4 separate regions of the Homo sapiens genome follow, and regions 2, 3 and 4 are each linked to region 1. The links come from fine-mapping of genetic effects on gene expression. A gene starts in region 1. Each other region holds a variant in brackets. All regions are shown on one strand. Distances are from middle to middle.

Region 1 (8,000 bases):
TGGGAAAAGGGGAGCACGATGTCATTAGAAAAAAAATGATAGTAGGACAGGCACAGTGGCTTATGCCTATAATCCCAGCACTTTGGGAGGCCAAAGCAGGAGGATCACTTGAGCCCAGAAGTTCGAGACCAGCCTGGGCAACCAAAGGGAGCTCTTGTCTCTAAAAAAAAAAAAAAAATTAAAAATTAGCTGGGTATGGTGGTGCATACCCGTGGTCCCAGCTACTCAGGAGGCTGAAGTTGGGGGAGCGTATGAGCCCGGGAGGTTTAGGCTGGGGTGAGCCATGATACTGCACTCCAGCCTGGGTGGCAGAGTGAGATCCTGTCTCAAAAACAACAATAACAACAATGACAAAGGATAGTAATTTTTTTGTTTTTTTGAGACAGAGTCACTCTGTCACCCAGGCTGGAGTGCAATGGCATGATCATGGTTCACTGCAGCCTCAACTTCCCCAGCTCAACTGATCCTCCCACCTTAGTCTCCCAAGTAGCTGGGATTATAGGTGTGCATCACCATGCCCCGCTAATTTAAAAAATTTTTTCGTAGAGATGGCATCTTCTTATGTTGCCCAGGCTGGTCCCGAACTCCTCGGCTCAAGCGATCCTCCTGCCTTGGCCTCCCAAAGTGCTGGGATTATAGGTATGAGCCACTGCACCCAGCTGGTCAAAGATTTTCAAGCTGGCCGGGCGCAGTGGCTCACGCCCATAATCTCAGCACTTTGGGAGGCTGAGGCGGGTGGATCACGAGGTCAGGAGTTCAAGACCAGCCTGGCCAAGATGTTGAAACCCTGTCTCTACTAAAAATACAAAAATGAGCCGGGTGTGGTGGCAGGTGCCTGTAATCCCTGCTACTCGGGAGGCTGAGGCAGGAGAATCTTTTGAACCCGGGAGGCAGAGGTTGCAGTGAGCCAAGATCATGCCACTGCACTCCAGCCTGGGTGACAGAGTAAGACTTTGTCTCCAAAAAAAAAAAAAAAAAAAGAAAGAAAAAAGAAAAAAAAGATTTTCAAGCTGAGCTTTACAGCTTTACAGAAATTTTTACGAAAAGATATGAAAAAAAAGGAGGAATCTCGAGGGATCTGACTTGATCAATAGTTAAGGACAAAGCTGATGTGGGAACCCAATTTCCTGACCCCAAAGCCATTGCTAATTACTCCGTATTTTAAAACTAAAAGTTGTTAGGCCCAAGCATTGAGGTTTCTAAGAAAGGATATAGAATTTTACTCTGGGGAAACCCTTCAAAGTCACACTGATATTTCCTGTGCAGAAATGCTCAGCTAAAGGCTGGGCGCGGTGGCTCACGCCTGTAATCCCAGCACTTTGGGAGGCTGAGGCAGGCGGATCGCCTGACGTCGGGAGTTCGAGACCATCCTGACCAACATGGAGAAACCCCATCTCTACTGAAAGTACAAAATTAGTTGGGTGTGGTGGCACATGCCTGTAATCCCAGCTACTCGGGATGCTGAGGCAGGAGAATTGCTTGAACTCTGGAGGCGGAGGTTGCAGTGAGCCAAGATCGCACCATTGCACTCCAGCCTGGGCAACAAGAGCAAAACTCCAACTCAAAAAATAAAAAAAAGGACACGTCCCAGGGGTCTGGCTGAGCTCCAGGTGGCGGCTCCCAAGAGTCCCCAACTGCCTGTCAAGCACAGAGACCCTAGGACAGGTGGGGCTGAGACACCCAGGAAGGACTGGGTCCCCACTCGGATGTGCTCCTCTGGGAGGCACAACAGTTCAGGAGCCAGGCTGCAGGGAACCAGGGCCATGGGGCTGCGGGGAAGGCATGGCCTGGAGTGCAGGAAGCATGATGGACATGGGAAGGGGCCCTTTAGAGAAGTGCCTCGCTCAGTGCCCACCTTCAGAACCTGCCCCATCAGTGTGGGTGCTAGCAGGACCTCCTTCTCCTACCTTCCCGACAGAATTAAGCTGAGAGGAAATGGGACTTCAGCTCTGACAGAAAGAGGCGCTGAGTCTTTTCCCAGGCTCTCCACGGTCCTTGGAGAACCTGTGGCCCTGGAATTTGCACTGTTGCCCTGAGATGAACCCAACTCCTCACTGAGTGCCATGTCCTGTGGCTGCCTCGACCTTGCACAGTGGGTTAGGTCTACACAGTGGCATGCCCGTGCCCCTTCCCCAGTCCCTGCACCCCTGGCAAGGGGCCCTAACCTCTGGCAAACCAAAGCAAAGGGTCAACTCCAAGAGATGGTCAACAGCAAAGGGACAGGGTATACAGGAGATGACAGAGGGCAGGGACCCTGGACTCCACACTAGGAGACTCGAGCTGCAGCTGCCACTGTGCCACCATTTAACTCCGTGGCCTTAAAAAACATCTCCAAATCTTCAGCTTCCTTATCTGTATAAAGGATTTCACTGATCTTTACACAGTTCCCATGGGCTGCTGGGAGGAGAGTATAAAATAATATATGTGATGGTGCTTTGTGGCCCCAAAGCCTGAGGAGTGTCGGGGTCTCTCACCTCAGTTAGCCTGGCAGCCATCAGCACTGTCGTGTCTTTGTGGAGTTCAGTCTTGAACTGCCTCTTATCCAGTTCTTAGCTGCGACAACTGATATAGCCCAGGAGCAATTCTCAGTGTTCTAAGCACTCACTGACTGCACCAAGAGAAAGCTAGTGTCCCGCCCCACAGAAATGCCTTCACAGCATTACAGTGTAATGGTGGGGCCCTTATCAAGAGGAAATACAAGAACCAATAAGCCGGGTGTGGTGGCTCATGCCTGTAATCCCAGCACTTTGGGGGACTGAGACGGGCAGATCACTTGAGATTAGAAGTTTGAGACCAGCATGGCCAACATGTCTTTACAAAGAAAAGCCCTGTCTCTACAAAAGAAAAAAAAAATTAGTGGGGCATGGTGGCGTATGCCTATAATCCCAGCTACCCAGGAGGTTGAGGCAGGAGAATCGCTTGAATCCAGGAGGCGGAGGTTGCAGTGAGCCAAGATCATGCCACTGCATTCCAGCCTGGGCAACAGAGCGAGACTCTGTCTCAAAAAGAAAAAGAACCAACAAATCGGCTGGGTGCAGTGGCTCATGCCTGTAATCCCAGTACTTTGAGAGGCCAAAGCAGGAGGACTGCTTGAGCCCAGGAGCTCAAGACCACTCTGATCAGTATAGTGAGAACCCGTCCCTTATACAAAATTTAAAATACAGCTGGGATGGTGACGTGCATGTGTGGTCCCAGCTACTCAGGAGGCTGAGGTGGGAGGATCACTTGAGTCTGGAGGTCAAGGCTGCAGTGAGCATGGTTGCACCACTGCACTCCAGCCTGGACGACAGAATGAGACCCTGTCTCAAAAAAAAAAAAAAAAAAAAAAAAAAAGAACCAACAACTGACTCTTCAGTTTCTAGCAGACAACTGAGAAAGATATTTCCCACTACTAAACGGTGTTCATTGACCTCTGTGAAAAGGACTTCTGGTAAACTCCTCTTGGAATTTAGCACCAGGAAAAAGCTTGCCAGGGCTCATGAACCAGCTCTATCCATACATAACCCATGGCATCTCATGTTTGCCTCCAGTGCCAGCAAGCCCTGAGCTATAGTTGAAGCTCAAATACCATGGTCTTAAATGTTCTCCAACAGTTTAACTGTACATACTTTTTACTGTAAGCTACCTCAAATCTTTCTCAGAAATAGGTGCGAGATATGTGGATAAATAAGTTAGAAGTAAATGTTGATGAGAGGCAAGTGCATAGGCTTGGGGTTTAAAAAGAAACAGCAGAAGCAGGTAGCTGTGTGCCCCTGGATAAGCCCCTTGGTCTCTGAATCTATACTTATCAGTAAAATGGGGATCCTGATGCCTGACACCTGACACCTGATGCCTGAGTTGAAATGGAAATTGGCTAACACGATGCTATTAAATCCTGGGTCTTCTTATTAAAGGCCTCAATTCCTTCCTCTCTTCTGTCATGCTGGGAGCCCCCCCAGGATTCCCGGGTAGAGGGCGCGGGTCCGGCCTTGAAGCCGGGTTCTCAGGGCCTCACTGCGGGGTCTCTGCAGCCTCGGTCGCTGGCACAAATGCTGGACTGCAGCAGCCCCTGGGGTCCCCTAGGGGACCTGGGCGCCCCTACCTTATCTCCGAGTCCTCCTTAGGGTACTTGTCCACCAGGCTGATGACGTCCAGCACCACTAGCCCCACGCACAGGATCTGCTTCTCTTCCATGAGGCTACTCCCAGAGCTTCCTGCCCGCCCGGCTGACGGGGTTCCTCCCGGCCTCTGCCTCTTATCCAGGAGGATGGTGTCCCCGCTCCCAGCTGCCCTGGCTCCTCCTCCGCGTGGGAGCTCCTCCTCCAGGGAGCCACCTGCAGCGGCCAGGGGTGCAGGGAACGAAAGGAGCAGGGCCCTTCCTCGCGACACCCGAAGACCCGAGCGGGTCTAGGAAAGCCAACCCAGAGGTCTTGGTCCCCGGTCTTCCCGTAGCAGGTTGCCTGGGCCTGCAGATGGCAACGCCTCCCACTTCTCAGCCTTAGTTTCCTCGCTTGTCAGATGGACTCACAGCTGATGCAAACCTTTTTAAAGCGCGGCTAAGCGATCTCGAGAATGCAAAGAGAAAATGCGCTACTTGCCCCGCACTCTCCTGCACCTGCGTCTCCGACTCCCGACCCGGGACACGCGAGGTACAGCTGGGCCTCGCATCTGCAGCCCTGCCTGAAGCCCGCGGTCGCGGCGGCCCCGCCCCGCCCCGCCCCGCCCCGCCCCGGTTAGTCCCAGCCGAGGCCACGCCTCCGCCGCGGAGGAGCAGGACCCGCCGGGTGGGCCGCAGCCTCACGTGGCGGGAACGCAGAGCGCCCCCTGGCGGACGCCGGCGAAACGGGCGTGACACGGGGGAGACGTCGCAGGAGCCGGGCGGGCGCCGCTTGCTGCCTGAGCCAACCCCGAGCCGCCCCGAGCCGGGCGGAGGCGGCGAACGCAGTGCGGAACCCGGGGTCCTCTCCGGAGGCCGTCGTCTCTCCCGCCCCGTGCCCTGTGCACGCCCGGCAGCCCCCGACCCCGTACCGTAGCAGAACGGTTCGTTTAGTTTTTTTTAGAAAAACCAAGTGTCTTTATTCCTCGATCGTTTAGTATGGCGGTGGGCGGCGCCCGCGCGGGGGAGCCTGGAGCCCAGGGAATCGACCTGGAGGGCCAGTGGAGGGAGCGGAGGGTGCGAGGATCGGCTCCTCCGCAGGCCGGCCCTGGAGGGGTTCTTGGGGGATCGCGCCAGGCCAAAAGTCTGCATGGGCGGCCCCGAGCCTCCCTGAGCCGGCGCGCCCCGGGCGTGGGGAGAGGCCGCTCTGGGCGCGGTGCCGCTGCGGGCCCGGGTGCGGCGCTCGCCCAGGGCTAGGTGCCCCGTCTCAGGCGAGACCCCAGGAGCCCGCCGCCCCCGCTGTCTCTTCAGCCGACGTAGACACGTCGGGCGGGACCCCAGTCTACGCGTGTTCAAGCTCTGGGTCCCCATAGAGCAGGGCCCCGCTGAAGATGGTGAGCGGCTCCTCCGAGTGCGCCAGCTGCCCCATGACCAGGTCGACGCAGACCGTGTCCCCGGCCTGCAGCGGCAGGATGAGGCTGAAGACGCCCAGGGTGCCCGGGCTGGGCTGGCTCTCGGCCACCGGCTTATTCTCCAGGCCCTCAGGCTCGTAGCCACCGGAGTCTACGCGGGCCACGCCCTGGTTGGAGCGGGACAGCACGGCCTCCACTTTCTCGTGCCGGTGCCCAGTCAGCACCGCGCTCAGCAAGTAGCGTCCAGCCAGTGGCGCTGTGAACACGCCTGGGGACAAGGATAGCAGTCAGGGGGGCCAGGGAAGCTCCGGGGAGCGCACCAGAACTCCTGGACTGAGGAGGGACCCTCTGGGTCTTTTCACCTCACTGGAATGTGAGCGGCAGGGAACTGGGGGCTTTGTTCACTATGCATTCCCAGCACTTAAAACAGTGCCTGGGCAGGAGCAGGCCCCAGTAAAGATCTGCTGAATGAATGAATGACTACTTCTTCTCCCCACTGCCTGAGAATGAATAAATGAAGAAAGAGCCGGGGTCTCCCCAAATCAGAGAATGAAGATTCACACTGTCGGAAAAGGCAAGAATGGGAAGATATCACTGCACACCTCACCCATTTCTCCAACCGTTCAACCCAGCCCCTCCCAGGACTACCTGTCTCTGGATCATAATAGCCTCCATCATTGAGCAGGACTCTGTCGAAGGGGACCGTGCCTGGTTCAGACCGGGGCAAACTCAGAGCAGCTGAAAATGCCACTTGGGGCACAGGGGCTGCTGGTGCCCCCTCCACTCCTGAGTGGGAAGGGTGGATGTTAAAGGGGATGCTCAGGGCAGAGTGCCAGCCCCCTTCCCCTGCTGGATCCCCAGCCCAGGGCTGCCCGAGGACCTCTATCCTCCAACCCCTAGTCACTTCTCCCTCCAGAATCAAATGAAAGGCACTCACCCTGTTCACCTTGAGGACCTGTGAGAAGAGGAAAGGGAGCAGTGAGAAATAAAGCAGCTCTCACTAAGTCACTCAGCAAACATCTGCTGAGGCTCTCCTGTTGTGCTCGGTGCTACGTGGACTTCAAAGCAGGAATTGGGGTATCAAGAAAAACAGGAATAGGTAGGGTCCATTCTGTTCAACTGCTGGGCCATCCCAGCCTTTCACACCCCAGACAGCTATAATAGACTCAGCTTTAGTCTCCAGTACTGCAGTGGGGCCAACATTATCCATTAGCCTCCTAATACCCATTAACCAAACACAGTGACTATCACAGTTCCTCCTCACTTTCCTCTGATTTTCCCTTATCGGTCAGGTAGTACCCAATTCCCCTTGTCAAGTTCAGAGTGGAATGTCAAGCCTGGGGCTGCCAGCGGGGGTCAGGGTTGGAGGGGGCAGTGGCAACCCTGACTGCAGCAAGGGTCTCAGTGCACATACCTGGTGGCCCGATGGGGCCCTCTTGCCCGTCCTTGCCTGGTGATCCTGGAGGTCCAGCAGGGCCTGGGGGTCCCTGCAGCCCAGGAGGCCCTGGGGGCCCAGCCTCTCCTGCAGGCCCTACAGTGACAAAATTGAGTTGAAGGAGGGCCATAAAAGGAGTTTCCAATGGGTAAGGAAGGTGGGTGGTGGCTTCATGAACAGGGAGAAGATGGATGGAACAGGTGGAGCTTTGCAGGCTGAGGGGGCCATGGGGTCCCTTGCTGCATATGCTGGATCCCTGGCTGGCAGAGCAACATCCTCTCTCCACCCACAGGCCTAGTGAGCAGCCAGAGGGAGGGCGGGAGCTAGGACCTTGCATCATCTCTTGCAGGCAAACTATAACACCTGGAATACTGGCTGGGGCTGCAATTCATGTTGGGAAAAGCAAGGAGAAAGCAGATGAGTTGGAAGCTGGGCTGGGGGAGGGAGAAGAAAAATAAGGGGCTTGAAAGGGGTCCCCTCATGCCTTTTGTCCCCTCACCAGTGAGGTCCTTCAGGCTGAGCTGGTGCAGACGGTCCTCCAGGAGCTGCAGGGAGCTGTTAAGGGCACCCAGCCGCCTGCCCAGGCCCGCCTGTCCCCCGACCAGCTTCTCCAGCAGGGCTGCCTGCATCTGGCTGGTGGTGTTGGTTTCCCGGAGCCCAGCCCAGAGCCCAGCCACGTGTCTGGAAAGGCCCTCGCGCAGGCCCTGCAGTCCCCCAGCCACAGTGTCCAACCGTTCACAGACACCCTCAAGACGGCCCAATCGCCCCTCTAAGCTGGGGCACTGGCCGGCCTGTGCTTGTCCCTCCTCTAGGCCTCGGAAGCGCTCTTCACTCTCTGTAGCATGCTCTGTGGCCTCCTGCTGCAGCCTGTTAATCTCAGAAATGATACGGTCCTTGGTTGCCCCCAGGTCAGCCAGATCAGCGCCCTGGCCCTCCACAGTGGTCTGGAGCTCATTCAGTGAGTCATTGAGGGAGCTGAAGCTGAGAATAACCTCAGAGAGCTCTCCTTGCAGGGCCTGCAGGGCTGAGCCTGAGCTGCCCCCAAACACGCTGAAGCCGTCCAGGGGCCCACGGCTTG
Region 2 (8,000 bases), 150 kb before region 1:
CACTTCCAACAACCTCCTTATGCTCACTACCACTCCCAATGCTCATTTTTTCTGGGAACTAGAAACAAGGGCAACAGGACTGCTGCCATCTTCTGGAGCCCACACTTTTACCCATGTATTCTTTCACTTGCAGTTCTACTCACTGGCTCATTCATTCTTTCAACAAGTATTTATCAGGCACCTATCACAGACCAGGTACCCTAGAGGCTAGGGTCCCATACGGATCAAGACCCTGTCCTAGTAGAGTCCTGAGGCCTGGCCTGCTTCCCATTTTCTTGCTAGGGCTGTCCCACAAGCCCCACTGGGCAGAGGAGGTACATGCTGGATTCTCTCACCATGGTCTGAGGCAAAGCAGTCGATGACAGCCATGTTCTCCCACAGGGCTTCCACATCCTGGCGGGAGCCAAGCTCAGGCCGGACCTCCCCCTTCCCAGGCCCCAGGCGCTCCAGGTCATCATGGCTTAGGAACAGGTGGTGGGGAGCCACCTCGCAGGTCACTGGCAAGCCCCGTGCCTTTGCAGCTTTAATTAGCAGGATCTGGGGAACAATGGGAAGATCCAGAAGAGGCACCACCCATATGCCTTGCCCTACACAAAGTCCCAATGGCCAACATCCCTGCTCAAAAAATGATGATGTAGACCTGCAAGGGTGCTGGCTCGAGACCCTCCTCCTGCTGTCTCCAGACTCTCCTCCTGCTGTCTCCTGCCCCTAAGGACTACCCTGACCTTTGGTGTTACTGGGAAAGCAACAGGGACAGCAGGATCTCAGGTGTACTCTTACCTCCTCCTTCCGTGCCACGTGACATATGTGCACTGAGCGCTGAGTGAGCTGAGCCACCATGAGGACAGCAGCCACGGTTTGCTGCTCTGCGTGAGCCACAATGGGGAGGTGGGAGGGCCATGTCTCGAAATGCTGGGAGCAGAAAGAACTGATGAAGGAGTGTGCAGAATCTCTGACTGTGCTCATCAGAGCCCAGAGTCCCCAGGAGCTCCCCTGAATCCTCACTGCTACCAGCCCACTTAGGCAGGGGCCCACAAGCCAGGAGACACTGGGTGGTGGCCTCCTGCCACATGCACACTCCCTACCTCCATCCACTGGACCACGCTGTCCAGCCGCAGCTCAGAGAAGGTCTCATTGAGGTAAAGCTTCAGCCCGGCTGCAGACCCGGCCACGGTGCCCAAGGTTCCTGCATTTTCAGACGAGGCCCCAAGGAATAGCGCAAAGTCGCACCGGGCGCCAGCCTCTGCCAGCTGGAGAGGATACACAGAGGTAAGGCTCACTGGCACCCATGCCCACACAGGCTAGCCTGGCACCAGTGGCCTGGGCCCATAGGGCGGGGCAGAAGGAAAAGGGCTCAGGGAAGCAAGGGTGGCTGGTAGGGGCATATGGGTCTCCAATACCAGGAAGAGTGCAGTGGCTCACCTTCTGGGCCAGGGCCAGAGCAGGGGCGTCAATGATGGGGGGCCGGGTATTAGGCATGGCACACACCATGGTGATACCCCCAGCCAGGGCAGCGGCTGTGCCTGAAGCAAAGTCCTCCTTATGTGTCCCACCTGGTTCCCGCAGGTGCACATGGACATCAATCAATCCTGGGAGAAAATGGAAGCAGCAAGATTACAGGAAGATTCAGAAATAGGAAGGGTGAGCTGGACATGGTGGCTCACGCCTGTAATCCTAGCACTTTGGGAGGCCGAGGTGGGCAGATCACCTGAGATCAGGAGTTCGAGACCAACCTGACCAACATGGTGAAACCCCGTCTCTACTAAAAACACAAAAATTAGCCTGGTGTGGTAGCACACACCTGTAATCCCAGCTACTTGGGAGGCTGAGGCAGGAAAATCGCTTGAACCTGGGAGGCGGAGGTTGCAGTGAGCCGATATCACACACCACTGCACTCCAACCTGGGCGATGGAGTAAGACTCTGTCTCAAAAAAAAAAAAAAAAAAAAAATTCCTCAGACAAGGCCACTGTGGACACTGTGGATTAAGGAATGAAAGAGTGAGAAACATTCTGGGGTCTTCACAGTCTGTGCAGTCCAGGACAAAGAGTGGGCCCCCCAGCCATCCTTCACCACACTGCAGGTCTCTATGCCAGGGGCTGCCAGTGTTCAGAAGCCAAGTTCTCCCCAAAGACTTACCCGGCAGTCGCACAAGCTTTTGGGAGGTCATACAGTCAACATGCACCTTCAAAGGAGGGGCTGGCCCGATCTGGCCTAGGGCCTGCAAGTGGAAAGCAGTCAGCTTTAAGGGAAGGGTGATCCTGGGAGTTGTAGGGAGAGATGTGGTTTTCCCATAAACCAGGCTCTGCACACTCTATACCCACCATCTCTCCCTCTGTAGCCACAAAGCTTTATTACTAGCATGGCTGTTCCATACTCACTCCTCCCTCTTTCTTCTTCCCATCAACACTGGCAGTCTCCCTCCCAGCACATGGGTCTCAGTTACCTCCACAAAGAGTTTGGTGCACTTGATATCGATGATTAGGGGCACGGAGAAGTCAGCGGCCAAGCGTCGGGTGCGGTAGCCCTTGGTGACAAAGGAAGAGAGACGCCGGCCCCCAGCTCCACGCATTGACAGGTTAATCACCAGCTCAAAGTTTTTCTCAGCTAGCTGCTCCAGGATGCTCCGCTGTGGTGGGCACTCACCATCCACAGCCTCCTCAAAGTGCCAGTCCACAGCTGTTACCTGCCAACCCGGAGTCAAGGTCAGGGCCAAGCTGTCTGGCAGCGGTCAGGAAGGCTAGCCTTAAGGGAGAGGAGCTGGCCCAGGAGCCCATGATGAGGAGACTGAGGACCCATAGGGTGGGCACTGAGGGCTGCCTCTATTTGATACTGGCAAAGTGTATTTCTTGGCAGGAAAGATATCTACACTAAGTAAGATGGGTTACCAAGGACTAGGTGCAGTATGAGCTCACACACATGTACACAGAGAAAATCCTGGAAGGAAAAATATCAGAACAGTGGTACAGAGATTTTAAGAGACTTTTCTCTTTGCTTCCTGTGTATTCTGCTTTCTGCATGGAATATAGCTTACTAGTATAATGGTA[A/G]TAATAAAAGCAGGGGAATAGGAGATAATTCTTTGTTTTTTTTTTTTTTGAGACAGCATCTCACTGTTTCCCAAGCTGGAGTGCAGTGGTGCACTCACTGCACACTCGCAGCTCACTGCAGCCTCTACCTCCTGGGCTCAAGAGATTCTCCTGCCTTAGCCTCCTGAGTATCTGGGACTACAGGTATATGCCACCGTGCCCAGCCCAGATAATTCTTTGGTGCAGTATTTTCACCCCCTTGGGGAAGGGCAGCAGTGGGGTAGGTTGCCAGAGTTCCTGCACCTTGACGCCATGCTCAGTGTAGAAGTCAGCTGTGCCGAGACTGGCATAGAGGCTGTAGCCCAGGCTCTCCAGTAGCCGCACAGTTGGGAGCAGCTCGCTTTTGTTCTGAAACCAAACAGAAGGATGAAATTGTTTTCTTCCTGTCTTCCATTTCAAGGTCAGCCCTGGCCCAGGGAGCCACGGCCCTCGGGAAGCCCTCCTGGATTCTGATACCTTATAGCTGCCAATGGTCAGCAGGATATTCTTCTTGGGGATCTTAAAGCCAGTGCTTAGCATGGCCTTGAGGTATGCCTCACAGCGGCTCTCCCCAAAGCCGGCCACCTCCCCAGTACTGGTCATTTCCACACCCAACACCACGTCAGCACCCGCCAAGCGGGAGAAGGAGAACTGAGGCACCTAAAGGGGCGGGAGGGAAGAGAGAGGGCCAAGGTGTGAGAGGACCTCCTCCCTCACCAGCAGAGACGGACACAGTACCCTGTGCTTGATCCCATCTGAATGGCAGGGTCAGCCTGCCCTCTCTGTGTGCCCTCCTGCTTTCCAAACGTACTTGGGGTCATCCCTCAGCTTCTGCTTAGGATGTGCCCTTGCAAATAAAAAACCTTAACCATCCTTCAAAACTCAATTCAAATAGCACCCCTTCGCTCAAGCCTTCCCAGATCACCCCTTTTGGAAGCAGCACCTCCTGTCTCTTGAACTCCTGCAGCATTCTGTTTACAGGTCGAATATGTAGTTTTACCACGGACTGTTCTATACCAAAGCTTTTTTGGGGATCCAACTTCTCTTCCCTCCCATTACCATAAAGTAAGCTCTTAAGGGACAATGACCACCTCATTACCCCCACGATCCGGCAATGCCTTGCAGTCAGTGCCTGGTTTACATACTGACAACTCTGTGTGGTGAGTGAACTCTCTCCCGCTATTTTTCTGCTAACCCCAAGGGTTTCGATATTCCTTACCTTTACTCCCACGACTCCAGAACCAGTCATTAGCCCCACAGGTTCCACTTCTTCCCCCATGATGACCCGCGTGGCCAAGGCTACTAGGTCCACACCCAGTGTCTTGGAAACGAAGGGGAAGGAGCGAGAGACACGTACGTTGCATTCAATAACTTTCAGCTGGTCATCCTGGGGCAGAGAAGACTGGTCAGGCCTTCTGCAGGTTGGCCTTGCTGACACTATCTATAGGCCTAGACTCTTCCTCTCCGTCCTCAGCTCTGGGGGATCAGACTGAGCAGGGTTCAGGGTCACTGACTGTCATAAGCCCCAACACCATGAGCTCTAGCTACAGCCCTTTCCCTCCAGCTTCCCTGCCTACTTGGATGAAGGCAGGAGACAGTGCAGGGCTTCATGGCACTGTGGCCAGCACAGAACATGCAAGAGCTGTGGCCCTTTAGTTCTTTCCTTTAGCCTTATTACCTTGGCAATGAGCTGCAGATTGAAGGGTCCTGTGACCTGTAGCTCCTGGCCCACAGCATGCACAATGGCTTTGATCCGCTCCAGGGTTTTGGCAGTGATATCTTGTGGGGGGGTCACCAGCGTCGCATCACCTGAATGCACACCTGCATTCTCCACATGCTCAGAGATGGCGATGGCTGCCACCACACCATCAGAGGCCACGGCATCCACGTCAATCTCCTAGCGGGGGGACACAGACAGTGGGACATAGGGCCACTTTCTTCTCTCACTTACTCTAGGATTGTCTCTTCCTTTAACGAGCCCCACATAGCCCACTGTTCCCAGCCCTGGTGCCTATGATTCTGCTGGACCAGAGAAGGAAGTCTCCTCCAGGGCTGGCAGCATGCCCTCAGAGACTTCACTGTCTGCAGCCTCCCACCTTAGCCTCCTGGATGAACTTGGAGATGACCACGGGATGCTCTTTGGAGACGGCTGCTGCGCTGCTCAGGAAGCGCTCCAGGTCTCCATCCGTGTAGGCCACATTCATAGCAGCACCGCTCAGCACATAGGAGGGGCGCACCACACAGGGGTACCCCACGGTCTGGCAGAATTGGCGAGCAGACTACAGGAGGCAGGGAGCTTAGCTGAGTTGTTCACACTTTCCCCCAAGCATCATCCAGCCTCCGGGTAACCCACCAGGTCCCAGCCCACCTCGAGGTCACTGAGCTCCCTCCACTGAGGCTGGCTGATACCAATGGTGTCAAGGAGCCGGGAAAACTTGAAACGGTTCTCAGCCGAGTCAATGGCTTCAGGGGAGGTGCCCAGCACCCGGCACTGCTGCCGATGCAACGCCATGGCCATGTTGTTGGGCAGCTGTCCACCCATGGATAGGATCACACCTTCAGGGTTCTCGAGCTCATAGATGTCCATCACCACCTACGTTGCAGGGGGAGAAACAAGTGGTGGCAGCAAAAGAGGGCAGGAATCTGAGCCTTCCTGCTCACTGCTTCCCTCAGCCGCCACCAAGTTTCAAAGAATCTTAGGTCAGCCAGCTGTTCTACTCGACCCTGGCCACTCAAGCTACCAGGAAGCCTCCATCTCCCTCACCTCAAAAGAGATCTCATCAAAGTAGAGTCGATCACACATGTCATAGTCGGTGCTGACTGTCTCTGGGTTATAGTTCACCATGATGGTCTTATATCCCATCTGCAAGAGGGAGGGGAAGGGTACTTAGCAGTCAGGTGGGAGGAAAATCGTGGAGAAAATCGTGGAGAAACTAAGCCAAAGCCCCTACTTCAGAGACTGCCAGCACAGCTTCCTCTGAAAGAGCTGTACAGGACCCCTGCCTTGGGAGGGAAGGAGGTACAAAGTGTTGGGGAAGAGATTCATATACCGTGTGGGGCATGAGAGATGGCCTAAAAGGACCCCCACCCCAAAGCTCTATGACCAAAGTAAGGGACGGCAATTAATAGGAAATGCCAGGATTAGTGCCAAGCAATTGCTAGAGATGAACAGAATAGCAAGGAAAGTGGAAAGAAAATGAACTCTCTGACCTTTCGGAGCTGCTGGATGCAGCCTACAGCACACCAGTCAAATTCAACGCTAGAGCCAATACGGTAGACGCCAGAGCCAAGGACTAGGACATGAGGTGTTCGAAAGGTGAGGTCATGGGTGGTGCCCCAATACGTTAGGTATAGGTAATTTGTCTGGGCTGGCCACTCAGCTGCAACTGTGTCAATCTGTTTCACTGCTGGACAGATCCCCAGTTCCTGACGCAGCTTGCGAACAGCCAGCTCTGTGCTAAAATAGAAAAAGGGTCTGAAACACAGGCCCAGAGAGTAGGGTACAGACTGATAGAGGGTTGAGACCCCAGGGCACAGATGAGAGGAAATATCCTTGGAACCAAGGTCAGAAGCCTCTAAAGCTCTCCCACACTCTCCTTCCTCCCTCCCAAGGGTCCCTCACTGATACAAAGGTTCTGCCCCACATTTCCCAGCCGGAAGCTCTCATTGCCACCTCTGACCTCAGAACTGCAAGGGCAATCTGTTTGTCTGAGAAGCCAAGACACTTGGCCTGTTGCAGCAGGTCTGGCGGCAAAGGCTGTCCACGGTGTTGTTCTAGCAGCTGGGCATGTGCGATGATACGCTTCATTCGGTGCAGGAACCAGCGGTCGATGCGTGTGAGCTCATACAGGCGGTCCACTGAATAACCAGCCCACAAAGCAGCTGCCACCACAAAAATCCGCTTATCTGTTGGAGTCTCCAACTCCTGATAGAAAGGGGGTAGACAGACGGAAGCTACTGCCAGCCCATCTAAAAGCCTGAGCGTAAGTAGCTGCTCTTGTCTCAGGAAGGGGAAACTGTACACCAGAGCACAGGCTGTGTAACTGCAAAAACCTGGATACCAATCCTGGGTCTACCTCTCATTGGCTATGTGGCTTTGAGTAATTTCTATAACCTATGTCTCAGTTTCCTCATCTGTAAAAACAAGTCTAGTAATACACCCTTGCGTGCTAATGAGACATCTCAAAATTCTCAGCAAAGTGGAAACAAAGCAAATGTCCAATGATGACTGCTGCTAGTGTTACTGGTAACAAGCTCATGGTCTGGGGGCGATGAGAAGCAGGGTCTATTTTAGGGGTATTGCCAGGGGAGGGGAGCTACTTACCATATCGCTGACTGGTTTCACTGTGTGATCAAAGCCCACACAGTTCTCATCCACCATGCGCAGGGCCTTCTGGAAGGCCTCCTCAAATGAACGCCCAATGCCCATGACTTCACCTGGAAGAACAGAATGGAAGGAATGAAGGTGTGGAGGTGGAAGGGGTGGGAAGAAGGCACTGCCCATAATGCTTATGGTTTATAGTCAAGACTCTGGGAGATTCTCAAGGCAAGTCACATGATGGTGGGATTCATGGTGTTTCACAACTAAGAAATCTTAATGGCCGGGCGCAGTGGCTCACGCCTGTAATCCCAGCACTTTGGGAGGCTGAGGCGGAAGGATCACGAGGTCAGGAGATCGAGACCATCCTGGCTAACATGGTGAAACCCCGTCTCTACTAAAAATACAAAAAAATTAGCCGGGAGTGGTGGCGGGCGCCTGTAGCCCCAGCTACTCCAGAGGCTGAGGCAGGAAAATGGCGTGAACCCGGGAGGTGGAGCTTGCAGTGAGCAGCGATCACACCATTGCACTCCAGCCCGGGGAACAAAGCGAGACTCCGTCTCAAACAAAACAAAACAAACAAACAAACAAAAAGAAATCTTAACTTATAGCTCTTTTC
Region 3 (8,000 bases), 140 kb after region 1:
TTATTTGGTACTTAGGAAAGGTATTTAAAAGGGAAATCAAATTTTAAATGTAGTTGAAAATGTTGTAAGGTGTTCAAGTTCATAAATGGAATCAAAGTCACCTTAAAAGCAAATGATAGAATTTGGTAGGGTTACAGCTTCTAATGGAACAATGAGGTCTACGAGGCAAACTGAAAAAGCTTAGAAAAGCATTTGCAGGCCTTCCCCACCCTGTGGCATCCCCGGCTACTGAGACTCATCAAGCCTCCAAGAGCTGTGTGAAGACGCTGGGCTTGTCATGCAAACCCCTAAGTCACCACCCACTGTGGAAGGACCCATCTTCCGCATCTCTTACAATGCCATGTCTTGTCTTTCAGCAATGGAAAAATTTTTAACTCCTGGACAGGCACAGTAATAGCCCAATGAATGTATAGGTATACAGAAAGTGACCATGTAATTTATTATACAAACCAGGACATGTTTGACAGTGAAAGTGGACACTGTTAATAATTATTCTGGGGCAATAGACTTAAACCAGGATTGCCCTGAGCAAACCAAGACATCTGGTCCCTCTAGTTCTAAATGTATGGTTGTAAATCCAGAAGGGAAAGTAAAGAACTCACTTTCCATCATAAGACAGTACCCAGTGTCAGCAAAATGCCAGATCCTTTACTGTTCTACTGGGAAAGCTCTAAGAGCCCTTTCAAATGTCTGTTGTTACAACACTGTCAAATAGCCTGTTATTAACTTAGGACTCTAAGGTCTACCAGCCCCTACATATCATGAGGTTTCTTCTTCACACCTGGGTGTCATGAGACCCTGTGTCTTCCACTGACTAAAAAGCAATTTTTTTTTTTTTTTTGAGACAGTCTCGCTTTGTCGCCCAGGCTGGAGTGCAGTGGTGTGATCCCACCGCCACGCTCGGCTAATTTTTTGTATTTTAATAGAGACTGGGTTTCACTGTGTTGCGCAGGCTGGTCTTGAACTCCTGAGCTCAGGCAATCCTCCCGCCTTGGCCTCCCAAAGTGCTAGGATTACAGGCGTGAGCCACTGTGACTGGCCGACCACAATGCAATTCTTAGCGTTAGTCTCTACCGGTGTACAGAGGTCAGTCTGTAATTCTGAGTTAGAAAATAGAGGCTGGTGGCTGCCTAGCTGCTGACTGGTGTGGTTTCTCCAAATCCGGATTCTCATAAATGATCAAGCCTTATTTTAAAGTCTGAGTCTGTGGTCTTTGATTTTTCTACAACTACATACATAAAAAGGCACCCTATGTCTTCCTGGGTATCTTTTATTTTTTCCCTGTAGACTGCCTGATAGACGCCTTGTGCCAAATGTGTGGTCATATTATTTTTTTCATCCAAACCCAATGGATTTTTGGCAGTTAACCCAATTCTGGTGTGCTCTCCTGTTGTGGGAAAACAGGGTAACAGACACTTTGGCCCAATACATTGCAGGGACTCGGCATCCATCTCAAGCTGGCAAATCCATCTCAACCTTCGAATTTTAATGTTAAGAAATAAGTACAGTGACCACATAGTACTAGAAGCCACAGTTTATTTTTATTTTTATTTTTTTTGAGACAGAGCTTCACTCTTGTTGCCCAGGCTGGAGTGTAATGGCGCGATCTTGGCTCACTGCAACCTCCGCCTCCCGGGTTCAAGCGATTCTCCTGCCTCAGCCTCCTGAGTACCTGGGATTACAGGCATGCACCACCACACCTGGCTAATTTTGTATTTTTTTTAGTAGAGACGGGGTTTCTCCATGTTGGTCAGGCTGGTCTGAAACTCCTGACCTTAGGTGATCCACCCGCTTCGGCCTCCCAAAGTGCTGGGATCACAGGCATGAGCCACAGCACCCGGCCTTAGAAGCCACAGTTTTACCCTTTAGTGTGAAAGAGTTTAATCAGATAATCCTCCTAACATCTGACTGAGCTCTAGAGGGAAGGTAGAGGGGTCTCAATGCAATGGATGGGGTTGAGACTACAGAGGGCCAACTCCAAAAGCGGGGTTCTAGACAGCCGGAGAGCAGCTGGAAGGTCCTTCAAAGGCATATTGGCCTTGGGACAGCGCTTTGTCTTGTGATTTTTTTTTTTTATGAGGCCATCGTTCCATCAGCCAAACGTTCTGCCGAGTGGAGAGGTGGCTATGGGCTTCCAAAATGGTAGCCAAGAGAATACGCGACTATAGGTAGATGGAGTGAGTCTAGTTTTTTTCCCTTTTGCATCTAATTCTTCCTCCTAATTATTTCAGATAATTTGGCAACCTTGTCCCTGGAAATCTGGCACCACTGGGGCTCCTGTCTCTCAGAATTAAAAAAAAAAAAAAATCCAGTCTCTGCACAAGCCTCCCAGTGAGCTGCCACCCAATAGGAGAGACAGATCAAAGCTGCCTTTTCTTAGCAACTGAAGCCTTGCCCAGCCACCGTAGAAGAGATCTCTGCCAAACTCCCTCCTCTTTGAAGAAACACAACAGAGTCCAAGTGAGAAGTAGCTACAGTTTAATACAAACCTGCACCAGAACACAACGTGTCGGGCTGTTTAGTTTTTGCCTCAAACGGTGGCCAAAGCACAGGACCATGTGTCGTCTTGGGGTTGACACAGTCTTAGCACCATGACATTTACAGGGGAGTGGGGAAGTCACCTGGGTGCTGGGGTGCTGGAGGCTCCATCCGACCCCAGGCTGTGCCTGCGCCTCAGCAGCTGGAGGGGGTTTGGGTTTCCTTGTGGTTCTGTGGCTTCTGGGTCAGTATCAGAAAAGCCCTCATCACGACATCGGCTTGACAGAGACCTACTGTGGACTCCTAGCACTACACACACGCACGCACACGCACACACAGTAGCACAATTTTCTGGCAACTTAACCCCACAAACCTAGAGAGCAGCTAAGGCAAGAACAACAGTATTTATTCAGCAAGTACAAGACCAGTTTGAGAGCTGCATTCAGTGCAACCAGAGACCCTTTCGTTCCAACCAGGAGCCAGTGGGGCTGGTGACGAAGCTGGCTGGAGCTCTGCACGGGGCAAGGAGTGCATGGTGGGGGCTGACCGCTCATTTGGCTCCTTGAATCTCTTTCTGATTTCTATCTAGAAGCTCCCGGGCAAGGGTAGGGCCTATGTAGGGACTGGGGGTGGATGAAGCGCATGGCCTACAGTGGACCACTCCAAGACGTGGTTCCCTGGTGCCACGGGTCACACATCTCTCAGGCGGAGGCACTCAGAGAAGGTAAAGCTTTCCTAGCCCAAGCAAGGATGCTCTGCCCAGCTGGCCACCACCGCTGCTGCTGGGCTCTTTGACATCTGCCCAAGGCCCATGACCCAGTGAGGGCTGACAGGGATAGAGATGGTGTGCACTGCACCAGGAGGCGGCGTCATGGTTTCCCCCATCCCTGGTGGCTTTCCCAGGCCTGGGTCCTCACCCCTGTTCCAATGGCTGCCACTTGCCATGAGCCCCTTCGCCACCTCTGCTCCCCGGCTGACCACCTCTGTCCTCTCAGCCCCTGAGTGAGGAAAGGGGGAGTGAAGGGAGAAGTGAGGGTGTGGACGCAGCTCACACTGCACGGTTAGCCCCCAATGGGTGACTAGTCTTGGCTCAAACACAGAATGTGCATGAGGTTGTTTATAAGAAAGATGAGAAAAAAAATCTATCTTCCTGTGCAAAACAAAGCAG[G/A]CTGCCTACCAGGAAAGTAAGTCTTCTCATTGGTTAAACTCTCAGGTGGGATCTACAATAGATGTCACCCCAGACCTCCTCTCCACAGGTGGGGTAGATAGCCAAGGTTGGGAGGGTCATCACAGACACTTCTGGGGTCAGAGGACCTGAACTTTCTGGGTCTTAGTTTCCTCATCTGTAAAATGGGAAGAATAATAAGTGCTCCATTGTCATGAGGACTAAGTGAGAGGTCATATACGGAAGTGGTTTGAATACATGAAAAGCACTACAGAGATGTGCAGGGGCTGACTTTTTTGTTTGTCTGTTTTTTGAGATGGAGTCTCACTCTGTCGTCCAGGCTGAAGTGCAGTGGCGTGATCTTGGCTCACTGCAAGCTCCGCCTCCCGGGTTCACGCTATTCTCCTGCCTCAGCCTCCTCAGTAGCTGGGACTACAGGCGCCCGCCACCACGCCTGGGTAATTTTTGTATTTTTAGTAGAGACGGGGTTTCACCGTGTTAGCCAGGATGGTCTCGATCTCCTGACTCCATGATCCACCCGCCTTGGCCTCCCAAAGTGCTGGGATTACAGGCGTGAGCCACCGCACCCGGCCAGGGGCTGACCTTTAACCGAGGGTCCAGAAGCCTCGCGCAAGCCTCGGGGGCTGAAATCACATGTGCAACATGAAGTCACTTCCCACGGGGCAGACCAGGCTTAACAAGGGCAGGCGGCTGGGTCACTTCCCAGATCACTGGAGGTGGAAGGAGACACCCGGCCTCTAGTGTTTCCATGGGAACTTCTGTGGGGCTTTAGAAGCAGGGAGGGCCCACCTGGATGGACAGGGGAGAAGATGAGGCCATGAGCTGGCAAGGGCCTGGTGCCGACCACGGGAGATCACGGCACCTGAGCAGCAATGCGGGTTCGACAGCCAGGTCCTGTGGGCCTGGGGTCTCCCTCTCTGGTGTCTGGCAAGCCCCTCTCCCACTCCTCCTCTCTCAGCAGGCATGAGGCCTCTTGCCAGTCACACAGGAGGAGCGCTGAGTCTCTGTCCAGCAGGAAGAAGTTATAGGAAGCCGTGCGTGTGTGTGTGTGTGTGTGTGTGTGTGTGTGTGTGTGGTGGCAGGTGAAGACAGGGGAAGGCAAGGGGAGTGCTGGGAGTGATCAGGGGCAGAGAGGGGAAAGGACACCTGCTTCCTGAAGGGCTGGCATCTCTGGGGCTAGCATCCCAGGCCCCCTTTTGGAATGTGGGAAACTAGACAAGGAGGGGAGGGGAAGGGGAAAGGGCCAGGGCCTCCCGCAGCCCAGAAGACTGCAGGCGGGGAAAAGAGAGGCCTGTGAGCCCAGCCCCCTCCACCACCCCTGCCCTGTGCTGTCTGGTTGGTGTCAAGTGCAGCGTCTCCTAAGGACCACATCTATTCCTGTCGCTATTCTATGCTAGTGACACAAGCACCGTTATTTTTCACAGGATGCACAAACAAGTCAAACCAAACTACTGCGCAAACCAAACGTGCAAAACAAAACCATTTACACGCGCCTGGCACCAGCCTCGAGCCCCGCCCAGCTACCCTTCTGGGCCTGTGACCCCCCGAGGGTGTGGGCGGGGCGCAGGAGAAGCTGGCGAGGGGCACCAGGAGTCCCAGCCACCCCCATCCCTGCCCCTACACAGGGCCAGAGGTGGGTTGGGGGAGATAGGACGTCCTGGGCATGGCTGGGAAGCTGACATCTGTCTGACTTGGGAAATGTCACCACGGGGCCTAAGGGGTGGGGGAGGAGGCCTTTACTTTGAAACCACATCTGCTAAAGTGCTCTGGGCAACTGGCCAGTCAGCCAGGGGGCAGGGCACTAAAGTCTGGGCTTTCCCAAAGCCAGCGGAGGCAGGAGTGAGAGGAAGGGCTGGCCAGGGCTCTATGCATTGGGCTCTGTGCATAGTGTGGGCTTCCTGGGCCCCAGAAAAGCCCGCCGAGGCCAAGGCAGAAAGGACTACAGCAGGAGGAACACATCTCAAAGTGCCTGTTAGAGTTGGCTCGAAGCACAGTGAATCACTTTGCAGACATAGGGAGGGCTCCGTGGGTCCCGGGGCCCCCCTCGGGTGGTGTGCCACCCAGCCCAGCCTCTCCTGCCCCTGCAGCTTCGGCTGGAGAGTTGCGGGCTGGTGGCGGCGGTGCGTCCTCACTCGGGGGGCTTGGCAATGCCTTTACCAAATGCCACTCGACCTGCCTCCGGGAGGAGCGAGGATCCGAGCTGAAGCTCGCTTTGGAACATGGTCATCGATCTGAGAGCCTGCAGGGAAGGAAGCACAGAGGGTGAGACGGGCTCTTGTGCCTGCTAACAAACCACAGACACCCTCTCCTGGAGGCTCACTGTGTGCATGGCCTGAGTGAATCCTCACAGCCACTCCATCCCATCTTATAGATGAGGAGACAGAGGCTCAGGGAAGTTAAGTGACTTGCCCCATGTTGCAGTGTGTAAGTGGCAGAGCCTGGACTTGGACCCAGGTTTTCCTGATTCAGAGCCGACATTATTAACTGCCCACTGTGCCAACTTCACTGCCCCATGCCTAGGCATACAGTCTCTCGTACATGCAGGTCATTGGCCAGCCTGTTGGCACATGGGCCTTTGTACATATGCCTCAGTGAGTAAGCGAGAGAGAAAAATGAGGGTATGCCATTGTTTCGGAAAATGAAAGAACCACAGCCCAAAGGCCCCGCATCTTGAAATCCCATGACTTAGTTACAAAGGGAGGGTCTATACAGGAGAAGGATTGAAAAAAAAAAACAAAAACAAACAAAACACAAAGGGAGGGAAAGGGAGGGTCTAGTGCCCCGGAGAGCCCAGTGGGACATTCTTCAGCCTGGCCTGCTTAGAACAGACAAGATTTGGGGTAGAGAGGAGGGGACAGGCTGCCTGATGTTTGCTGTCTGAGCGGGGGTTCTGCCCAGTCTTGGCTCTCAGGCAGGAGAAGAGGAGGCTGCTGGTCAGCAGGGGCCCTGCAGCTCTGGGGTCTTGGTGCCTCTCGTGGGTCTGGCTGCAGGAGGAAGGCGGTGGGAGTCCATGCCTCCGGGACTGGCAAGACCTGAGTGTGCATAAACAAGTCTTCCATGCCAGGGTCCCTTTCTGACTTCACTCATGGCCCGTCACTGGTGGGAGTGGCAGTGGCCCTCAGAGTAGCGGAGCCATCATCTCAGGAATGAGACTGGTCCTGAGAGAGGACCCCTCCCCATGGGCTACCAGCACCTCCAACAGGGACCTCATCTCTTCTGCCACAAGCTGCGCCTGGCCCAAAGCAGGGCACACAGGAGCCTGGGCAGGCAGGCGCTGACCCATTGGCATCCCTCTGGTTTAGCCCTCTGTTCTCACAGCAGGATGGTTTGTGTATGGGGCTTGTCTCCCCCAGTAAACTCCAGGCTGTGGGTGGAAGGACCAGGGTCTTGCGCCTCTCGCCGTACCCATCCCAGCACAGCCCTTACTGAGTGGGTGCTTGGTCTCTCTCTGGGCTTATCCTGAAGGCAGCTCAACTGTGCTCAGGGAGACTCAGGGTCCTAGCCCCCTGCAAGTGGTGGTGACAGTTCCCACCTAAGCCACCTGGAGGCCCGAGGCATCTTACAGCCTCTGCTTGTTCTCCACTGAGGATCATCATTTATGAGCCCGTGGCTCGCATGGTGATGGGTGCGGGGGGGGACGGGGGGGCGGGAAACTGCAGATCGTGGCTTTAAGAACTGGGATCGCACCCCCCAAGGAACCCAGAGATTCCACAGAAGGACTGGGGCCAGGACCCAAAGGACAGAAAGATAAGAGAAAAAACTGGGCATCAGAAGTCGAGAGAAAATATTTTACTTAAAGTTAATAAAATATATACAATACAATTCCTGGTAAAAAAAAAAAAAAGAAGGTGAAGGTGAGGCAAAGGCGGGGAAAGGTGTGGGAAGGTCAGAGGAGGAGAGGGGGTAGCAGAAGGAGTAGAGAGGCTGGTGAGGAGTGGGCTGGGGTGGGCGAAGGGCTGGTCGGTGCAGTCCCGTGAACCACAGACAGGGCTGACTCTTCTGAGCTCAGGGCATCTCTGGAGCACCCACTGTGTGCACAGCCCTCAAGATGTTTCAAGGGACAAAAATATCTGAACTTAGAAACCCCGAGCAGAGCCCCAGGTGGGCCATGGCCTATTAGAGCGTCTGTGCCCAGGGACCAGGACAGCCCTCCTGTCCCCACTAATGTCTATGTGAGTCTAATATCCAAACCAGCACTCATCCCTGGAAATAGGCAACGGGAGGGAGGAGAGGACACAAAAGAAAAGCAGGCGTAAGTCCCACTGCCTAGGTGGGCCACTTCTCCCAGACCCCCATCCTCCTCCCGTGGCCCCCTGACTCTTACCAGAGAGGCTGA
Region 4 (8,000 bases), 51 kb before region 1:
CCTTTCACTGCATATACAATTTACATGTGAGAGGGGGCTAAAGGAACAGTCACTTAACCCTTAGTCTGGCTCAGTGAATCTGCATTTTTACATAGACAGTAGGACAGAGGAAGCAAATCAGATATGCATTAGTGTCAGGTGAGCAGAGAGATGATGACTTTGAGTTCTGTCCTTTAGCCTGCACCTGTGAAGATAAGCTATCAATTTACATTGCCAAGGTGAAATTCAACAGAACTGTTTGGCCAACAAGGAATTTCCTTGTGGGCAAACTGTGAAGGAGGTATGTAGCTTTTTACAAAATCTTTTTCTTTTTGAGATGGAGTCTTGCTCTGTTGCCCAGCTTGGAGTGCAGTGGCGCGTTCTCGGCTCACTGCAACCTCCGCCTCCCAGGTTCAAGTGATTCTCCTGCCTCAGCCTCCCGAGTAGCTGGAATTACAGGCTCAAAACACCATGCCCGGCTAATTTTTGTATTTTTTTTTTTATTAGAGATGGGGTTTTACCATGTTGGCCAGGCTGATCTCAAACTCCTGGACTCAAGTGATCCACCTGCCTCAGCCTCCCAAAGTGCTGGGATTATAGCTGTGAGCCACTGCGCCTGGCCACTTTTTCAAAATCGTTGTAGCTATCTTATTTAGGAATAAAATGGGAAGAAGGTTTGCCTGATGCAGTTCCCAGCTACTCGGGAGGCTCAGGCAGGAGAATCGCTTGAACCCAGGAGGCTGAGGCTGCAGTGAGCTGAGATCGTGCCACTGCACTCCAGCCTGAGTGACAGAGTGACACTCCGTCTCCAAAAAGAAAAAAAAAAAGCATGTATGAAAAAGCCAGCCGAGCATGGTGGCTTGTCCCTGTAATTCTAGCACTTTGGGAGGCCAAGGCAGGCAGATCACTTGAGCTCAGAAGTTCAAGACCAGCCTGGGCAGCATGGCAAGACCCTGTCTCTACAAAAAAATACAAAAATTAGCCAGGCATGGTGGCGTGTGCCTGTGGTCCCAGCTATCTGGTGGGGCTGAGGTGGGAGGACGGCTTGATCCTAGGAGGTCAAGACTGCAGTGAGCCTTGATTGTGCCACTGCACTCCAGCCTGGGCAATAGAGTGAGACCCTGTCTCAAAAAAAAAAAAAAAAGAAAAGAAAAAGAATAGAAAACCCACAGCCGGCCGGGCGTGGTGGTTCATGCCTGTAATCCCAGCACTTTGGGAGGCTGAGGCGGGTGGATCACAAGGTCAGGAGTTTGAGACCAGCCTGGCCAATATGGTGAAACCCCATCTCTACTAAAAATACAAAAAAATTAGCTGGGCATGGTGGTGCACGCCTGTAATCCCAGCTACTCGGGAGGCTGAGGCAGGAGAATTGCTTGAACCCAGGAGGCAGAGGTTGCAGTGAGCCGAGATCGCGCCACTGCACTCCAGCCTGGGCGACAGAGCGAGATTCCATCAGCCCCTCAAAAAAAAAGGTCACTAAAGTTGGTATACAACACCCCACTGCTAAATTTGACTGGCTTTTAAAAAGATAGGCTAAGGATTTGAATATACAATTCTTCAAAGAAGATAAACAAATATCCCTTAGCACATGAAAAGATGCTCAACATCATTAGTCATTAGGAAAATGTAAATAAAAACCACAATATCATACCATTTCACACCCACTAGGGTTGCTAAAATAAAAAAGACAGGCAACAACATGTGTTGGTAAGGATAAAGAAACATTGGAACCCTTATACCTCGCTGATGGGATTGAAAATTGGTACAGCCAACTTGGAAGACAGTTTGGTAGTTACTCAAAATGTTAAATATAGATTCACCGTGTAACCCAGCAAGTCTGCTTCTATGTATCTAAAGATAAATGAAACCATATGTTCACATAAAACTTGTACAAGAATGTTCATAGCACTATTCATAATTGCTAAAAAGTAGGAAGAACCATGCCAGGCACGGTGGCTCACGCCTGTAATCCCAGCACTTTGGGAGGCCGAGGTGGGTGGATCACCTGAGGTTGGGAGTTCGAGACCAGCCTGGCCAACATGGCGAAACCCTATCTCTACTAAAAATACAAAAATTAGCCAGGCATAGTGGCCCGCGCCTGTAGTCCCAGCTACTCAGGAGGCTGAGGCAGGAGAACTGCTTGAACCCGGGAGGTGGAGGTTGCAGTAAGCCAAGATTGTGCCACTGCGCCCCAGCTTGAGCAACAGAGTGAGAATTCATCTCAAAAAAAAAAAAAGTAGAAAGAACCAAAATGTCCATCAATTAATGAATGGATAAACAAAATATGGCATATCCACACAAAGGAATATTATCTGGCAATAAAAAGGAATAAAGCGATGACACATGCTACAACATGAATGAACCTTGCAAACATGCGAAGTAAAAGAAGTCAGATACAAAAGACCATATATTGTATAATTCCACTTATATGAAATGTCTAGAATATGCAAACCTATAGAAACAGAGTAGACTGGTGGTTTCCAGAGGCTGGGGGAAGAGTGGGGACCAACTGCTAATGGGTACAGGATTTTTGGGGGGACAAAAATGTTCTAAAACTAGATTGTGGAGATGGTTCTACAACCCTGTGAATAAACTAGAAGACATCGAATGGTACACTTTAAATGGGTAGATTGTATGGTATGTGAATTATATCCCAATAAAGCAGTTAAGAAAATAGTTATTAAAACATATAATAGGTATATCCCAAGGGGGAGAAAGTTGTGGTGCATGAACTCAGCCCAGACAGGCTGTGTTAGTGGGGAGAGCAATGGATGAAGGAGGTGGTTGGAGCTGTAAAGTGTATAGGCCAAGAGTAGAGGTGGGGGCTGGGTCTTGAAGGAGAAACTGAGTGCACTGAAGAATTCTGCCTGCTTCACAGCGTTATCAAGGGCCAGCCTTTGGATGGTCTCTTGAAGAAGGTCCCAGAGCTTCGAGGAGGAGATTCTATGATGTCAGCACCTGACCTTTGTGACATAGGCACATGCTGCCAGGGGGGAACTGAACTCAGGGAATGGGGCCCCCAGCTCCCATTGGGGTCGGCGAACCTGGTGCCACCCCTTAGACAAAGTCCCAGTCTCCCAGAGGCTTTTACCAGCTGGCCCCATTCCTTCTGCTGCTGGGTATAATAAGGTATCTCTGTCTGGGCCAGGGTGAGCTAGAGGACATCAGCACTAGGGGCAATAAGGGGTCAGAGGAACCAGAGTGGCAGGACACTGGGATGCTTGCAGAACCCCCGAATCAGGATTAGGAGAATAAAAATCTGTACCACAGGCCTCCGCCTGGCTAAAGGAGGACTGAGGGCAAAACTCAGGGCTCAGACAGAAACCCGGGTCAGAGTGCACTTAGTGTTAGACGCTGGGGACAGAGAAAG[G/C]TGTATCCACCATTTGGTGACCCTGCTCCTCTCTCCCAGGTCCTCTCAACGCTGAAGTGCCTGTGAAACACAGCCCAGAGGAGTTCTCATTGGTAAGAGCGCTCAGCACCAGAACACCCTCAATTCCTGTTCCCATCTCAGCCCTTATCCCCCGAACCCCTCCTCCAACTCCATCCTACCCTCCCTTCCTCCTTATTCCTCTCCTCCCCACTTCTCACCTTCCCTGGAGCATTTTGCCAGTTCTTTTGATCCCAAAGGTGACATGGATTTAAAGTCTTGGTGAGTTCAGCTTGGAACTGGGGATATGAGGCAGAGCCAGAAATGGACCAATTCTCCCAATGTCTTGGGTTCTCTCTTTTCTCTCCAGGTCCTATGGGCTTTGTCTTCCTCTCTGCCCCACCCAGATAATCGCTGCTGCCCCTCCACTCCCAAGATGCAGCTGTGATTCTCCATCCCCACACATCCCTCATCAATGGTTGACTGCAAAGAAGTGAGAAGCCAAGCTTAGATTCATGCTCATGCCTGAACACCCTGAGAGCCTGGTGCTGGAGGGCTGGGTATCCCCTTGGCCTGCCACCAGCACCTGCACCCACACCAGGCTGGAGCCACGCTCTGCGCACAGAAGGTGGCCTTGATTTCTCAGGCACAGCTGACCTCAGAGATACTGGTCCTGACTCTGCCAGGTCTCTTATCCCTAGTCTTGTTGCCCCAGTTCCTTCTGGATTCAAGGCGATGTTGCCTCAAAACAAGGACCAGGTGCTGCCACAGACCTCAGTGCTCCCTGGGCGCCCCACTTGGGGCTTCTCACAACTTGTGGACTCCTCTCCTCACAACCTACAGCCTCTCTCTCCCCATCAGGGCCTCCCTCCCTCTCAACCACCGTTCTCTTCCACTCAGTCCCGTCGTCCCTCCTCCCCTCCACCAGCATCCCCCTCTCCTGGCTTCCAATTCGGCTCTTGTGACTCAAATTCTGACTTTGCTCCACATCCCTATTCTCCCTCTCTCCCAAGTTCCCCTACTTTCTTTCACCAGAACTACCTCTCTCTCCCCCGTCCACGTGCATCCTCTCCCTCCAACCACTGGCTGTACCCCTCTCCCCCTCTGACCCCTTCCTTTTCTCCCTCCCAGCCTCAGAACTCCTCCCTTCCCCACTCACCTTGCCAGTCCCCTTCCCACCCCGAGGAACTGCATAGCTCCACACTCACTTCCCCAGGCCCCAGCCCACCTTCTCATAGGCTCCACTCTAACAGGCAGACATGGCGCTGGCATCAGTACAGGGACACTGGGTCCGGGTCCCCTGGAGTGGTGGAGAGATGCGTGCCAAGCGAGAAGGATCCTGCACAGTTCAGGGACCCAGGGGCCCTGGCCCAGGCCCTGGTGGTCCAGCTGGGGCACCGCCGCATCGCACACGACCTGCGGCTACTGCTTTTGCAGCACCTGTGGCTAGGCAGAACCGGCCAGGCCCCAGTCGTGGAGTATCCTATATGCCTGGTGTGCCTCCGGCCCCGCAGCCCCTCCTGCCCCCTCCCCAGGTACAGGACTGGACCCCGGCTGCTTGCTTTCCCTCAACTACTGCCCTGTGTGCAGGGCCAGGAATCTGGGCCACTCCGGATAGGCATCGGCTTCGGCCTCCGCCTGCCTCAGGGCCAGGCCAGGGCCTTGCATCTGCTGCCCGAGAAAAGGCCGAAGGAAGCAGGGCCTCAGGGCAAGGCTACTCAGGCCTGTGGGCATCAATTGCCAGCATCTCAGCCTCCAGCAGCTCAGGCCCGGGCCGACCCAGTCCCAGGCACACCCTCCCAGACCAGGAGCTTCAGGTCTGCAGGCCTTCAATCACCAAACTCCCCACGATGTTTCTCCGGGCCTCCACCTCGGGCACCAAAACAGGTCACTACCTCCCTGAAGCCCAGGCCTTGCCCTGGCCCAAAGAGGCCAGTTTCTCTGGAGCTCATTCTCCAAAAGTCATCAGTCTAGTTCCAGAGCCACGGAGGCCCCCTGGAACACCCCCTCCAAACCCAACCCTCCCAACCAGGCCCCAGATCTCGGGGAGTCCCCGAGACACCCTGAAGGGCTGGCTGGCCGGAGGTCAGGTGTGTTCTCCTGCTCTGAACCCTGGGAGCCCCTTGTGGAGTCTGCTGTCTCCAGGCTGAAGAGGACCAAGGGCACCAAGGCCCCATTCAGCCCTCCGTGTATCTAATAAAGTCTGACCCTGTGAAACTTGTGTTTGCGTCCTGCTGAGTCCACAGAATAGGTGGCTGTAACTATAGGGGTGCCAGTCCCTAACAAGACCCTTGGTGGCGGGGAGGGGGTGGTTCATGCCTATAATCCCAACACACTGGAAGGCTGAGGTAGGAGGATCACTTGAAGCCACGAGTTTGAGACCAGCCTGGGCAACATAGCAAGACCCTGTCTCTCCAAAAACAAAAATATAAAAAAATTAGCTGAGTATGGTGGCGCGTGCCTGTACTACCAGCTACTCAAGAGGCTAAAGTGGGAGGATCACTTGAGTCCAGGAGTTCAAGGTTGCAATGAGCTATATCATGCCATTGCACTCCAGCCTGGGTGACAGAGACCCTATCTCAAAAAAAAAAAAAAAAAAAAGAGGGCATGGTGTGGTTGCTCATGCCTATAATCCCAGCACTTTGGGAGGCCAAGGTGGGCATATCATTTAAGGTCAGGAGTTACGAGACCAGCCTGGCCAACATGGTGAAACTCCATCTCTACTAAAAATACAAAAATTAGCTGGGTGTGGTGGCGGGTGCCTGTAGTTCCAGCTACTCAGGAGGCTGAGGCAGGAGAATCACTTCAACCTGGGAGGTGGAGGGTGCAGTGAGCTGAGATCAGGCCACTGCACTCCAGACTGGGCAACAGAGCGAGACTCCGTCTCAAAAAATAAAAAAGACCCTGGAGGGTGGTGTCAAAGGAAACGGAGAGGCCAGAAAGAGCAGGTGCCATGTATCCAAGGAGGACAAGGGACCCACAAGGCCTGGGGACTTGAGATATGCAGAGAGCTTGGCCAGGCCCTTCACACATCTAATTCAACTCTGTGGGACAGATATTGGCATCCCCAAAGATGAAGCCACTGCGCTATTCCTCTGGGTGCACCTTAGGTTAATGAGAATGCAGGAGAGGGCGTCTCTTTGCAGGGAAGGACATCCCTTGTGCTCGCTCTCAGGAGTGCACAAAGGTCCTCATCAGATCAGAAACCCGAGGGAGAATGGAGTGTCAGGCGCAGAAGATACCTGCCCGGGAGCCAAACTGCCCCCTCTGAGGCCAGCAAAGCAGCTGGCCACCCACCAAGCCACCAGCCCAGGAGTGTGAAGCCTTGAGAAAGGGAATGGCAGACACCACCCCTGCCAAAAGTGGGCGATAGGCGTTAAGGATGACAGACGTGTCCTCATACGAGGAAGCAATGGATTCAGCATTTGAAGTCAGGTTTATTTTTAAGTTCATGCTGCCTCCGTTAAGAAGCAAGAGACTCCGGTGGTTTCTGGTGTGTGCCCTCGGGCAAATCACTTCCTCTCTGAGGTAAGATGCAAAGGCCTGTGCTCCTAGGAGTTGGCATATCACTCCTCAGATGGGAACAGTCCTTATTTGAGGATTTTATGTGTGTGAGAGACAGGGTCTAGCTCTGTTGCCCAGGGGCTGGAGTGCAGTGGTGACATCACTGGTGGTCCAGCGCAGCCTCGACCTCCCAGTCTCAAGTGATCCTCCCGCCTGAGCCTCCTGGGCACCTGGGCCCACAGGTGCCACGATGTTTGGCTAATTTTTAAATATTTCGTAGGGACGGATCCCCATGTTGCCCAGGCTGTCTCGAAAGCCTGGGCTCAAGCCATCCTCCTCTCTCGGACTTTCCGAAAGTGTTGGGATTACAGGAGGATTACAGGCATGAACCACCGTGCCTGGCAGAGGATTTTTTTTTTTTTGAGACGGAGTTTCACTCTTGTTGCTTGTTGCCCAGGCTGAAGAGCAATGGCAATGGCGCGATCTCGGCTCACTGCAACCTCTACTTCCCAGGTTCAAGTGATTCTCCTGCCTCAGGCTCCCGAGTAGCTGGGATTACAGGCGCACGCCACCACGCCCTTTGTATTTTTGGTAGAGACGGGGTTTCTCCATGTTGGTCAGGCTGGTCTCGAACTCCTGATCCGCCCGCCTAGGACTCACAAAGTGCTGGGATTACAGGCGCGAGTCGGATTTCTTTATTAAAGGTTGACCTTCATCAACCTCCATTGGCTCCACCTCCTCCGCCCGCGCCCCGCGCCCCGCACAAAAATGGCGAAGTCGGTGCTGGGCGACTCTGCCTCCGCGCCAGGGGTGGAGAACCGAAGCCCCGCCCCGGGAAACGCGGCCCCGCGGCCGGCTAGTGCTGACGCGTGTCGGCGCTCCTGCGCCTGCGCGGAGGGAGCCGCGAGACAGGTGCGCATGCGCAGTGCGCGTCTGCGAGACCGACTTGGACGGAGCCGAGCTGAGGCTCGGCTTCCTGCTGATGGTCAGGGTTTTGGCAACTCCCCGGTGTGAGAGGGGTAGGGAGTGCTCCCGGCGGCGACGGGGCCGAGTTCACCAGCCGCCGGGGCAGTAGTCGAAGGCCCGGCGCGGCATGTCCTGGGTGCCGCGGTGCGGGCAGTGAACGCGCGCCGGGCGGGATGGGCCGGCG

Evidence for each region.
Region 2: its variant is fine-mapped to the expression of KHK in whole blood (TOPMed, PIP 0.95).
Region 3: its variant is fine-mapped to the expression of KHK in whole blood (TOPMed, PIP above 0.99). The same link has a PIP of 0.9 or more in blood mononuclear cells.
Region 4: its variant is fine-mapped to the expression of KHK in whole blood (TOPMed, PIP above 0.99).

The regions. Positions count from the first base shown.
Region 1 is chr2:27,083,433-27,091,432 of GRCh38, reverse strand. KHK (ketohexokinase) reads right to left here and starts at 4,661. Exons shown (of 8, transcript NM_006488.3): 1 at 4,082-4,661. The coding sequence starts at 4,173. EMILIN1 (elastin microfibril interfacer 1) reads right to left here. Exons shown (of 8, transcript NM_007046.4): 4 at 7,422-8,000; 5 at 6,902-7,018; 6 at 6,425-6,442; 7 at 6,136-6,273; 8 at 5,030-5,755. The coding sequence ends at 5,418. RefSeq lists enhancers at 4,408-4,467, 5,458-5,677 and silencers at 4,658-5,117, 5,168-5,327.
Region 2 is chr2:27,230,968-27,238,967 of GRCh38, reverse strand. It overlaps CAD (carbamoyl-phosphate synthetase 2, aspartate transcarbamylase, and dihydroorotase), which reads right to left. Exons shown (of 44, transcript NM_004341.5): 16 at 7,388-7,500; 17 at 6,744-6,988; 18 at 6,274-6,520; 19 at 5,828-5,926; 20 at 5,432-5,656; 21 at 5,160-5,342; 22 at 4,742-4,960; 23 at 4,283-4,450; 24 at 3,541-3,723; 25 at 3,328-3,432; 26 at 2,445-2,684; 27 at 2,138-2,219; 28 at 1,423-1,589; 29 at 1,086-1,250; 2 more. Among named protein-coding and RNA genes, the nearest start is that of CAD, 18 kb to the right of the region's middle. RefSeq lists an enhancer at 6,287-7,486. The variant A/G (reference allele first, on the strand shown) is at 3,046.
Region 3 is chr2:26,944,813-26,952,812 of GRCh38, reverse strand. It overlaps DPYSL5 (dihydropyrimidinase like 5), which reads right to left. Exons shown (of 13, transcript NM_020134.4): 12 at 7,989-8,000; 13 at 2,462-5,903. The coding sequence ends at 5,818. It overlaps LOC124905979 (a long non-coding RNA gene), which reads left to right. Exons shown (of 3, transcript XR_007086251.1): 3 at 2,232-2,298. Among named protein-coding and RNA genes, the nearest start is that of MAPRE3, 22 kb to the left of the region's middle. RefSeq lists an enhancer at 2,744-3,244. The variant G/A (reference allele first, on the strand shown) is at 3,647.
Region 4 is chr2:27,134,411-27,142,410 of GRCh38, reverse strand. It overlaps PREB (prolactin regulatory element binding), which reads left to right and starts at 7,775. Exons shown (of 9, transcript NM_013388.6): 1 at 7,775-8,000. The coding sequence starts at 7,990. It overlaps PRR30 (proline rich 30), which reads left to right and starts at 3,001. Exons shown (of 3, transcript NM_178553.4): 1 at 3,001-3,108; 2 at 3,389-3,441; 3 at 3,717-5,563. The coding sequence starts at 4,082. The coding sequence ends at 5,320. RefSeq lists enhancers at 7,837-7,886, 7,362-8,000 and a silencer at 7,957-8,000. The variant G/C (reference allele first, on the strand shown) is at 3,350.